Regions from separate parts of the Homo sapiens genome. Here region 2 is linked to region 1. A link means that fine-mapping ties the variant in region 1 to the expression of a gene that starts in the linked region. Tissue or cell type: fibroblasts. Region 1 holds a variant in brackets; the other region holds the start of a gene. All regions are shown on one strand. Distances are between the middles of the regions.

Region 1 (6,207 bases):
GCGGAGAGCAGGAGGGAGAGAAGATGCATCACAGGGATGGGCTTCCTGTTGACAAATGCCGTCTTGTGGCACTGGGTGTGGTTATGGCTCAAAAGAGCATCTATCTAAAAATGGGCCCTGGCTGCTCAAAGGATTCAGAGCACGTGTGTCTTTGAGTCACTGCTATTTACTTCCCGCTGACAAAAACAACCTTTCTTCCTGGCTGGTTTCCTCTGTGTAGCCCCTAGGAGTCCCACTGCTGTGAACATCTAGAGTCTCTTCCCTCATGGACCTCTTCCCCAGATGAATAGCTCAGCTTTCCTGGCAAGACCTGCAGGGTGGTGGGGACTGTGGCACCATAGCTGTTTGTTTATTCGTTAGAGCTGAGGGACAGGGCTTTTGAGTTACTTTCTCACTTGCTGTGTGGCTTTGAACAAGCCACTTGACCACTCTGTGCTCCGGTTTCCCAGCTGGCAATTAGAGGATGGGTGACTCCATTCTCTGCAGCATTTATCCACCGACTGAGGTTTGTTTACGGGTGAGACAGTGGAGCAAGTAACCGAGATGGGGTGAACCTCCTTCCCAGGTCGGGTAGACATTTAACAATAGGTTAGATCCCCTGTGGCCATCCTGGCAGATAAAGAGGTGGTTGTGGGAAGAAAATGAGCTTTAGGGCTAGACATTCCTGAGGCAAAAACTTGTCTCACTGCATCTTACTAGCTGTGTGGCCTCGGGCAAATTGCTTCATCTCTCTGATTCTTTGTATAAGGGGAATAACAGTTACAGCTTTTTTGTGGGGTTGATAGAGAGGTTAAAGGAGGTAACATCTATAAAGTGCTAAGGACAGTTTCTGGAATGTTATAGATGCCCAATAACCACAGATATTGAGAAAGCCAAGCTGAATAGGGATCGTTTTACAAAATATGTTAAAATCCTCACTCCTCTGTGTTGGCGTTTCTCATGCAGAGATTTAACACAAGTAATTTACTGTTGCCAAATGAATACCCCCAAAATTTTACTGTTGTATTTTTCCTGAAAATTAAGGCCCCCTTATCTCTCACCCTCCTTTGTGGCCAGCCCAGATTTCACCTCCTTGGAAAACAGAACCAATCAGAAATGTGTTTCAAAAAGTCCCAAGTTATTGCAAGGAGAACATTTTGGAAGGTGAACTGCTGCAGGGCCAGGCTTTGAACCCTGCCTGTGGAGCACTGTCTCCCTGGGAGGCTTTGTGGGTTCTGGCCTCCCTGGTGGCTCTGGTGGGCCACCCACGGGGTGGGATTTCAGGACTGGCCAACCACAGTCCTCGCTGTCTTGCAGGCTAATTCTTGATAGTCCGTGAAGCTCCATTGACTTAAAGTTTTGATCCCTGCTGGAGAGAGATACCCCTGGGAAAATATATCATTTTAATCCTCTTCAATCATGTAACCATTAGTGTATGTAACTATGGCAGAAACTGCTGGTTATCCCCTGTACCATTTCTCTCCTTCATTTTGTAATAGAAGTCCTGGCTACCCAGCTACAGTAGGGTTCCTCAGCCTCGGCACTCTTCACATCTTGGGCTGGATGACTCTTTGTTGCCGGGGGCTGTCCTGCGCATGGCAGAAGGCTTAGCAGCATCCCTGCGCTCTACCTAGCACCAGCCACTCTCCCAGCTGTGACCAAGAAATGCCTCAGGCCGGGCGCTTGGCTCACTCCTGTAATCCCAGCATTTTGAGAGGCCAAGGCGGGTGGTTCACTTGAGCTCAGGAGTTTGAGACCAGCCTGGCCAACATGGTGAAACCCCATCTCTACTAAAAATACAAAAATTAGCTGGACGTGGTGGCGCATGCCTGTAGTCCCAGCTACTCAGGGGGCTGAGGCAGGAGAATCGCTTGGAACTGGGAGGCAGAGGTTGCAGTGAGTGGAGATCACGCCACTGCACTCTAGCCTGGGCAACAGAGTGAGACTGTGTCTCAAAAAAAAAAAAAAAAAAAAAAGGTCTCCTCAGTTGAGTGTCCCTGAGTTAGAGATACATTTCCCAACCTCCCTTGCAGCCAGATATAGTCATGTCACCAAGTTCTGGCCAATGGCATGTGACCTGGAACACTCAGGTGGATGTGTACAAATGCCAGGTCAGGCCTTTAATGGGAAGATTAAGCCCTCTACTTCCTGTCTCTTCTTCCCACTGGCTACAATGTGAAGGCAGTGGCAGGAGCTGGGGCAGCCATCTTAGGCCCTGAGATAGAAGCTGGGTGTTAAGGTGGCAGAGCAGCTACAGAGAAGGAGCGGTGGTGCCCAACTATGTGGAGCTACCATATCCAGCCTGTTGCTCATGCTCAAGCTGCTGTGTGAGAGAGTAATGACCTGCTGTCTCGTTGGAGCCAATGCTACTTTGGCCTTTGTCACAGCAGCCAAACCTATGTCCTAATTAACATAATGAGTTTTTCGCTTCCTTACCTGACTGTAGAGTTGACACAAGCAGCAGGGAGAACCAGAATGAATAAAGGAAGGAATGACTAACTAGCTTCTATGGAGCCCCTCTTAAGTTTTAGACACTCTGCTGGGGGCTTTCGTGAATTCTCCAAGTAACTCTCCAAGGGAGGGACCATTATCCCCGTGTTTCCAGAAGAGGAGGCCAACGCTCACAGAGGTTAAGTGCCTTGTCCACATCATACAGCCCCCAAGGGACAGAGCCAGGATTCAGCCCTAGGCTTGAAAGACCACCACCCTCCACCCGCCCCTACCATGTTGCTGCTTTGATTGAGAGACTGAACAAACATGAGCCTCCACTAAGGATGCTGCTGCCATCAGGATGAGCTGTCACA[T/G]GAAGCCTTGCTCCCATCTCCACCCACCACTGTCTCTCCCCTCTCACACCCCATGTTCCGCTTGCTCATCTCCTAGGGGCCCCGGCTTGTCTGTTCTTTGGTGCCTCTGCATCTTGGCTTAGGTGACCCTGTGGCCTGGGATGCCTTGAACATCCTTCCAAATCCCTACCCCCTATGCCTGCTGGCTCAGAGCCCTGCAGCAGGATTCTGCTCAGACATCCCCTGCTCCAGGAAGCCTTCCCTGACTATAACCTTCTCAGTCAGACCAGGTCCCTCTCCTCTTGCTTCCTCCACACACCTGTACCATCCTCTGGTGGCACCCACCACGTGGTCTGAGGTGTGATGTTTACTGCGAGAGAGTTCCTTGAGGGAGGGATTCTGTCTTCTCTGTACCTTTGCTGATCAGCATGAGGTCTGAAACGTGTTGCTCACTCAAGGATGGAGGGGTGGAGGGAGAGATGCTAGGATACAGCAAAGCGAGGGACCAGCTCAGAACTGATCCATCCATTTATGCATACATAATGAAAAGTCAGCTGACCATTGCCGTGAAGAGTTTTGCAGAGAGAAAATGTCCTTGAATTTTGTCCTCAAAAAGCTAAGATACTAGAATGAGGCTAAGAAGAATTCAAATACAGAACACACAAAAAGATGAACTGTGAAGGTTCTGTTTCTGTCTATGGAAAGGGTCCCCTGGGGCCCCCAGCAGGCCCTGGCTCTCTTCACCCCGTCAATTCCTAGGAAGGCCAACTCATTCTAACATCAGCCTGAGTCAGACATAGTTAGGAAGAACCATCTGCTGCCAGAGAGCAGCACACAGAGATTCCCAGGCTGAAGAGAAAGATCAGGTCCCCCCTGCCTTCCTGCCCCCACTCACTCCCCAAGTGGTGAGGGATTGGCTGCATGTCTTGTTCTGGGGGACCTGCTGGCATTCAGGAGTAGGGAAAGCCCTTCTGCAGCCCTCTACTCTTGAGAAGCCTCCCTGGAGAACAAGGATGGGGGAACATGTAAGACAGGATGGCTTCCCTTTCTCAGGGGCTCTGGAAGCTCAGAGGGGTATCTAGAGAGCCAGAACACAGTCTGGGCACCTCAGAATGTCAGCCTCACCTCCCCTACTATGGGGGCCACCATGGATCCAGAGTTTCCATAGGGTACTCTTAAGGTCCTCTGATCAGTGGATTAGAAGTCTGGGCAAGAAGTTCAGCAATGAGGCCACCTTTAGCTAGAGCAGCTTTCCTTTCTCCCAGGGGAAGGGAGGGAGGGTAGGCCTTGCTGGCTGGATCAGTCCTGAGGGTGGGTAAGAACAACAGCTGTCCTGGTGATGGTGATGGTAATGGTGGTGATAGTGGTGGTGGTTGTGATGTGTTGGTGATGGTGGTGGTGGTGATGGTGATGGTAATGGTGGTGGTAGTGGTGATGGTTGTGATGGTGGTGATGGTGGCTGTGATGGTGGTGGTGGTGGTCGTGATGGTGGTGGTGGTGGTCGTGATGTGTTGATGATGGTGGTGGTGGTGATGATGGTGGTGGTGGTGATGGTGATGATGCTGGTAATGATAGTGGTAGTAGTGATGGTGGTTGTGATGGTGATGGTGGTGGTGGTGGTGATGATGGGGTGGTTGTGGTGGTGGTGTTGGTAATGATAGTGGTGATAGTGATGGTGGTGATGATGGTGATGACAGAAGCCAGCCCTACTGAGCCACAATTCTAAGCACTTATTTAATCCTCACAACAACCTTACAAAGTTGATTCTGTTACTTCCCATATATTACCCAAGTGATTTTAAAGCCATTTTCCAGGGCAAAACACTCCCATGGAAGCATCCCACCTGCTCTTTGGGACCTTGAGCAGGTCAATTCACCTTTCTGGTAGACTCCCCATCAGCAAGACACCAGCCCGGCTTGTTGAGTTCCTCCTGGTGTTATGGGACTCAATTGAGACCAACAATGCAAATGTGCTTTGAAAAAGTTGTGAGGACTCATCAGACTTATGCTCTTATCCTCCCCTCCTCAGCCAGTCTGGCCTGTGTGTGGACACCAAGGCCCACCAGGCATCCTCCAGGGAGGGAACCTGACCCTTCCATGTTTGCATTGTCCTTTCTATCTTTTTCCTCCCTGCCCATCTGCCATTCTGTATAGCACAGGGAGGGTCTAGCCAGTGTGGACAAGTGTCCCAACACTGGTTCTGCACCTCACCAGCTATGTGACCTCAGGAAAGTTACTTCCCCTCCCTGGGCCTCAGTTTCCTCATCTGTGTATAAGGGGGTTATACTGAGCTATCCCTCCGAGCACCAAAATCCTAATGTCCTGTGATCAAAAGCCAGTGGAAGGCCTGGGGAATCCAGACTGGAAAGCTCAGCTGAGCCCGGCTCCGCTTCCCATGTTAATGGCTTTGCCTAAAGGAGGCCCTGGCCATGCAAGCTGTTTTATCGAAATGTGTTCCAGCTCACTTAGATTACACTTCACTCCACTGAACTTCAAAAGGAGCACAAGAGCTCCTCTGCAGACAATTGCTTGTGGAACGTCAACACAGCCAGGCAGGCTCTAAGGGGTCACCTCATTGGGCAGCTGGGCAGGCTTTTAAGGACCCACAAGGGGGGAAAGCAGAAAGATGCAGGCAAGAGCCTCACACGGCTGAGCCTTCGTGGTTTTCACATGGTTATCGTCTTCCCCTGGTCTCCAGATCTCCGATCCAGAAGAGAGTCTTGATGGGCCAGAAAGATAGGCAGCCTCTAAAAGGATGAAAAGAGTCCAAGGACTGCAAGCTCGAGGGAGAGAATGAAGCAAAACAAAACTGTGAGAGGACATGTTAGGGGTGAAATGTGTTAGCACTTGTGTGTATGAAAAAGGGACACAAGTTTTAGTTCATGATAAAAGTTGGTCATGTGATATGGCTTCCAGAGAAACAAAAACTTTGGTGCTGCATTTAGAGAAATACAGTATGAAGTTGAGGAAAAGTGAGAATATTGGCCTGGCGTGATGGCTCACACCTGTAATCCCAGCACTTTAGAGGCCAAGAAGGGAGGATCACTTGAGCCCAGGAGTTTGAGATCAGCCTGGGCAATACAGGGAGACCCATCTCTACAAAAAATAAACAATATTAGCCAGGCATGGTGGCATATGCCTGTGGTCCCAGCTACTCAGGAAGCTGAGGTGGGAGCCTCTGCTTTGTTGAACCTGGGAAGGCGAGGCTGCAGTGAGCCATGATCGCACCACTGCACTCCAGCCTGGGTGACAGAGGCTGTCTATATAAAAAAAAAAGTAAGAATATTAATTGTTCCCCTTTATAAGAGCTTACTGTGCCAGATCCTGGAGCTAGCCAGTAATGTAGATAATCTCAGCATTTTGTGATCCTCACAAAACCCAATGAAGTAAACACTAAGCATGATCTCCTCATATTTCTGATGAGTAAACTGAAGTTCAGAGAGGTT
Region 2 (5,000 bases), 43 kb before region 1:
CGCTGTCTGGAACCAGGACTGGAAAAGAGGCAGTGTGGGGCTGGAAGGTGTGGGGGCAGGGTCCAGTATTTGACAGCTGAGGATCTCTAGTGTTTCAGTTCTGTGAAAGGACAGGTTGGAGGGGGAAGAGGTTAGCTGAAGAGGCAGTGTTTGGGGAGAGGAGGGCGGCATTGATACAGCACCTTCCTCTTCACAGAGCAGGAGCCCATCCAATACAACAGAGCAGCTTAAGAGCCAAACGCTCAGGCTCTGGGACACAGCGACCTGTGTCGGACACTCAGGCTTCCCCAACTCCCAAGTTCAACTTTCCTTCTGGCCCAGCCATCTCCTCACCCAGCTGGCTTCAGGAGCCCCTGGGACAATAGGCAGAATCATACTCTCCTGGGCAAAACCTTGCCAGGAGGAATTTTCTTTTTGTCCATATAAATCTCTTGTCGGTGAGGACACGATGGGGGAGGGGTACAGCAAGAGGTCAAGGGGGAGGAGAAACTGTCCCGAGAGAACTGTAGTACATCAGCCTAGTCTCTGCCTGCACAGCCTTGGGACCTGCCAGGCGATGAGCTGGGGGTCAGGGACGGGGGCGGGAGGCCTCCCTGTCTCTCTTTAATTCCTAGAGGGATCTGTCAGAGCTCCCCGGCCTGGAATTCTACTTTGTTATTTTAATGCAATTCTGACCTGGATTTAAATGGAATTGGAAACCCGAGGCCTTAATAAATAAATATTATGATAAGAAATGAAAGCCATGCAAGACGAAAGAGATTTCACCCCAAAGAGGCAGAAACGCAACATTCCTGTCGGGAGCCAGTCACAGAAATTTTCTTCTCTTCTTCAGCCCCCTACCATCCGGTGAGAGATGAGTTGATTTTTCCATAAAAGATCCTATTTTTCTTCAACATTTTTCCACTGATAAGGCATCAACTTAGAAATGTCTAACTTTGCATGCGGGTTGGGGGTAAGGGAAAGAAATATACGGCACGGCTGAAAAGTTTTCATTATTCCCTCAGTCTCTCCAGGCCACAGCGTAAGTTTCTGGCAATGTTTGAGAGAAGAGAAAATTCTCTCTCAGATTTTGGAAGACAAGAAGTCTTTCGAAGATGCTGGGAGTGGATGAAGTCGAGCGGAATTCTGAGGCGCGTGGTCTCTTCTGCCCACCGCCCCCAAGAGTTTCTCACTCCTCTCTGCCGCCCCCAGCTTGTCCGGCTTTTCGCTCGGGGCGCAGCGCCCAGCGGTCGGGCCCCTGGCCGGGGAGTCCGGGTGCACAGAGCCGGGTTCTGACAGCAGCACGCTCCCCAGCACCTGCCCTGCCCCTCGGGAATCGCTCCTAGGCCCTGAGGCCCAGCAGCCAGGACAGCCCCCAGGCCGCGCGCCCCTCCTTCCTTACCTTGCGCGGCTTTGCTGTACTGGGCGGCGCGGGCGTGGACCAGCAGGACAAGCAGGCAGAGCCCGGGTACGCGCCCCGAGCCCATGGCTGGAGCTACTGGCGGCCCAGCCGCCGGGGCCGGTCTCGCGGCCAGGGGAGGGCGGAAGCCGGCCGGATCCCAGCTCGCAGGAGGGGGAGGGGAGGGGGCGCCCCGCCGGGGCCAGGCCGGGGGCTGCAGTCGCGGGGCGCGGACCGCGGCGCCCTCGGCGCGAGGCTCCCGATGCTACCGGCTCCTCCTGGCCGGACGTCGGGGAGAGCGAGGCGGAGAGTGCGACGAGGCGAGGGGCGCCAGGGGCGACTGACGGAGGGGAACCCCCGCCCTCTCCAAGCCGGCCTCTGCCAGCGGCGGCGGCGGGGCTGCTCCGTGTAATCCCACCCAATTCCCAGCTTCGCCGGGAGAGAGCTGCAGCCGGAGAGCGCGCAGAGCCCGAGCGAAGGACCTGAGAAAGGGGAGGGGAAACGCAGCGCCAGAAACACGCCCTTTCTGCCTCTCTTTCTTCCTCTCTCGCTCTTTCTCCGTCTCTCAGGCTCTTTTTCTTCGCCTTTCTCCTCCTCCTCCTCTTTCTCCTCCTCTCCTCGCTCCTTTTCGTTTTCTTCCTCCTCCCCCTCCTCCTCCTCCTCCTCCTCCTCCTTCTCCACCACCTCCTTTTTCGTGCCCTTTTTTCTTTCAAATGGGGCCTCGGCGCGGTGGCCGCTCCCCCTGCGCGCCCGGGCGCGGTGGCCCCCTCCCCAGGCTGCCGGGCCGCTGCCTGCAGGAATTTACAATCCGGCGATGGGGGAGCGGGCCTGGTCTCCATGGAGACGGCTTCCCCGGGAGCAGGGAGGTCAGGCGCAGACCGCGCGCAATCAATGGATCAATGCAAGCTCCGCTCGGCTCCAGACCAAACAGCACCGGGCTCCGACTCGTCCTCGCTCCCCTAGGAAAGAGTCGGGGAGCGAGGGTGCGTCCCCGCGCTCGCTCGCGAGGACGGCCGTGCGGCGCCAGGTTTGAACGCACACCTCCACCCGAGACAAAGAGGGTGCGAGGTGTTGGGGAGGCTGGGGCAGACGTGGACACACGGACACACGGGCACTCGGGCGTGTCCACCGACACAGCCTGACAGGGGACATAGGACCTCGGAACACACCGCCTCCGACACCAGGCCGAGTAACAACCTCTCAACTTTTACACCTACCACACCCCCAACCTCAAGACTCAGTCCCCATTCCTAGATGCGAGTCCACTTTGAGGACCAAAAAGAAAGTAGCCTCCGCCTGCTAAAACTGCCAGCTCCAGGGCAGACTCCCTTGCAGTTAAGGCCTTGGAGGTAAGCCTAATGAACCACCCTACCCGCAGAGACATGGACTCACATACAGACACTCTCATGTGGTCAGCACAGGGGCGAAAGCTACCCCACAGAATCATGTCTATGTGTATAAACACAGAGACATAGAGACAGGTACAAGAGGCTCCTCCAAACCTGCACCCCGCTTCAAGAGGTGGTCCTGACTGGTCCATTCTGAACCCTTCATCCTTCCAACTGAGGGGAAGCAGAGGAAAGAGAAAGGATATTTTTAAAACAGGGGCAAACCGCAGAAGGAGCAGGGTCTTCCAACCATGGATGCTGCCTCTTGACTGTTCACCCACTCTGTATCTTCTTTCCTTCCATTGTAAGGGAAAGAGGAAAGACCTCTTGAAAGGCTATGAAGACTTTCTTGGAGTGTGAGGCTGTGTTCAGAATGAGACCAGGCCAGGTCCAGTTTTCTACAGGGAAGATGCTGCTAGGACCCAGACTAGCCTCACAGAGCCCTCAGCGTACCCAGGAGGAAGAGGCAATGACCAAGATCTCCTCAAAGGTGATTCAGTTCTGAGACCTTCCATATTGGCTGCCCACATCAGCTGGGGCAAGGGGAGGACTTTGTTGGCAATGGTGCTGTCCACCAGGGAGAAGAGCTGAGCCCTTCCTTTCCTAGGGATTCAGTGGAAAAGTAGGATGGAAACAGACTCAAACTTCTTATCCTGGGATGAAGATTACTTTTGAACAAGTCATATGTCAATGGGCCTCAGTTTCCTCAGAAAACAAGAGGGTAGTGGATTCACTCAGTGGTGGAAAGGGGGCAGTGCCCCAAGGAAGCCTGGGGGAGGAGTCCTGGAGAACCTTGCATAGCATCAAAGATGACCTTTGGGATGGGAGCACATAGATCATGGGAATGGTGTGGAGGCCACAGCAAGGCTGGGTCAGATGATTGAGGTCCCTCCCATCCTTGTCACTCTAAGATGCCCTCCCTCCTTCATTCCACTGGCAAAACCCTCCCCTTGCAGCGGTTTTGCCTGCTGCCACCAATTATGTGTAGGGTTGGAGGACAAGTGTAAATTTGCCATCTTTTTTGCCCCCAACAAGAGAATGGTTTCAAAAAAGGAGAAAGAAGTGGAGGTTGCCGGACGGTGTCTGTGATCTCCATGGGGGCACAGAGAGAGAGAGCCGAGGAGCTCCCCCACGGCTGGGAGGGGAGATGGCACGCTGCCTTGCTTTGCTCTGCCTCTGCCTTCTTTGGACACTAGTGTAGCTCCTCCGGGTCCCTGGGGGGTTGGAGGGAGGGCCCCTACATCCTCCTTGAGGTGGGCAAGGAGGATTCTATAGGGGGATTATGGGTTATTTGGGGCCTTCAGTTCAGGGTGATTTCCCGGCCCTCTGAGTACGGATATTGCCCTGGCTTTCAGGGAGGGAGGTTTGGTGGGTTCTTCCACCTAAGCCACTATGTCTCTGGAAGATTGATTTTTATGCCCCGTAGTTGCCTTTTATCTCATCCTACCAGTTTTCCTCTGATGATTTCCTCTTTTCCTCTTGGACCAGATGAGCTACTCCTCCACATCTGGGCAAAAAGAGGCAGTTCCCTGCTCTTCTCTCCTGCTGCCACTCACCCAATCTGATTCCAGAGTACCCTCAGCCCTTCAGACTATTCTACAGGAGTAGAAGCAGGGCTTATATCACCAGGACACTGTGAATTGAGGTGCTGGTCCAATTCATATTGCCTTTTGCCCTGTCCTCTTCTGCAGGGACTCAGTTGGACAGTAACTCAGGAAGATGACAGGGAAGGAACAACAAGATGGCACTTGCAAGTGGTACTACAAAAGCAGCAGCAGCACGTGCCATATCATAACCAGCAGGGGCAAAATGTCCAGTGGGCTCTGGGCCTCCTACACGCACCTCTAAGGTTGCAGTTTGCTTTGGGGCTTCATTTTCCTTCAGGGATGCTTCTGACATTTGTTTCATTCTACTTGCTCCTGAAAATGTCTGAGGAGAAGACTGGCAGGGGTCAGGGATCCCCTAGCTGATAGATCTTGGTTCAGTCCTGTTTAGGGATCCTTCTGCCAGGGCCCACCAGGCTCAGGGGTTTCCCCTCCCCTGCAAAGTCTCCTTCCATGAGCGTTGCTTTTTCTTTCTGCTCCTCAGTTTCCCTATATATAAAATGAGTCCAATGACCCTACCTCGATGGGCAGTGCCATATAGTCTAATGGAGAGCACATACAAGCTGGAAGTAGATTGCCCTGAGATCATTGTTAGGCCCTACCATTTCCCAGCCATCTATTTTTCTTGGT

The links. PIP is the estimated chance that this variant, and not a neighbour inherited with it, causes the effect.
Region 2: SCUBE3 starts here. The variant in region 1 is the best candidate, but not a certain one, in a credible set for the expression of SCUBE3 in fibroblasts (GTEx, PIP 0.59).

The regions. Positions count from the first base shown.
Region 1 is chr6:35,167,717-35,173,923 of GRCh38, reverse strand. No RefSeq gene overlaps it. Among named protein-coding and RNA genes, the nearest start is that of TCP11, 29 kb to the right of the region's middle. The variant T/G (reference allele first, on the strand shown) is at 2,784.
Region 2 is chr6:35,210,885-35,215,884 of GRCh38, reverse strand. SCUBE3 (signal peptide, CUB domain and EGF like domain containing 3) reads right to left here and starts at 1,929. Exons shown (of 22, transcript NM_152753.4): 1 at 1,382-1,929. The coding sequence starts at 1,466. LOC112267955 (a long non-coding RNA gene) reads left to right here and starts at 2,205. Exons shown (of 3, transcript XR_002956343.1): 1 at 2,205-3,256. RefSeq lists a silencer at 1,796-1,905.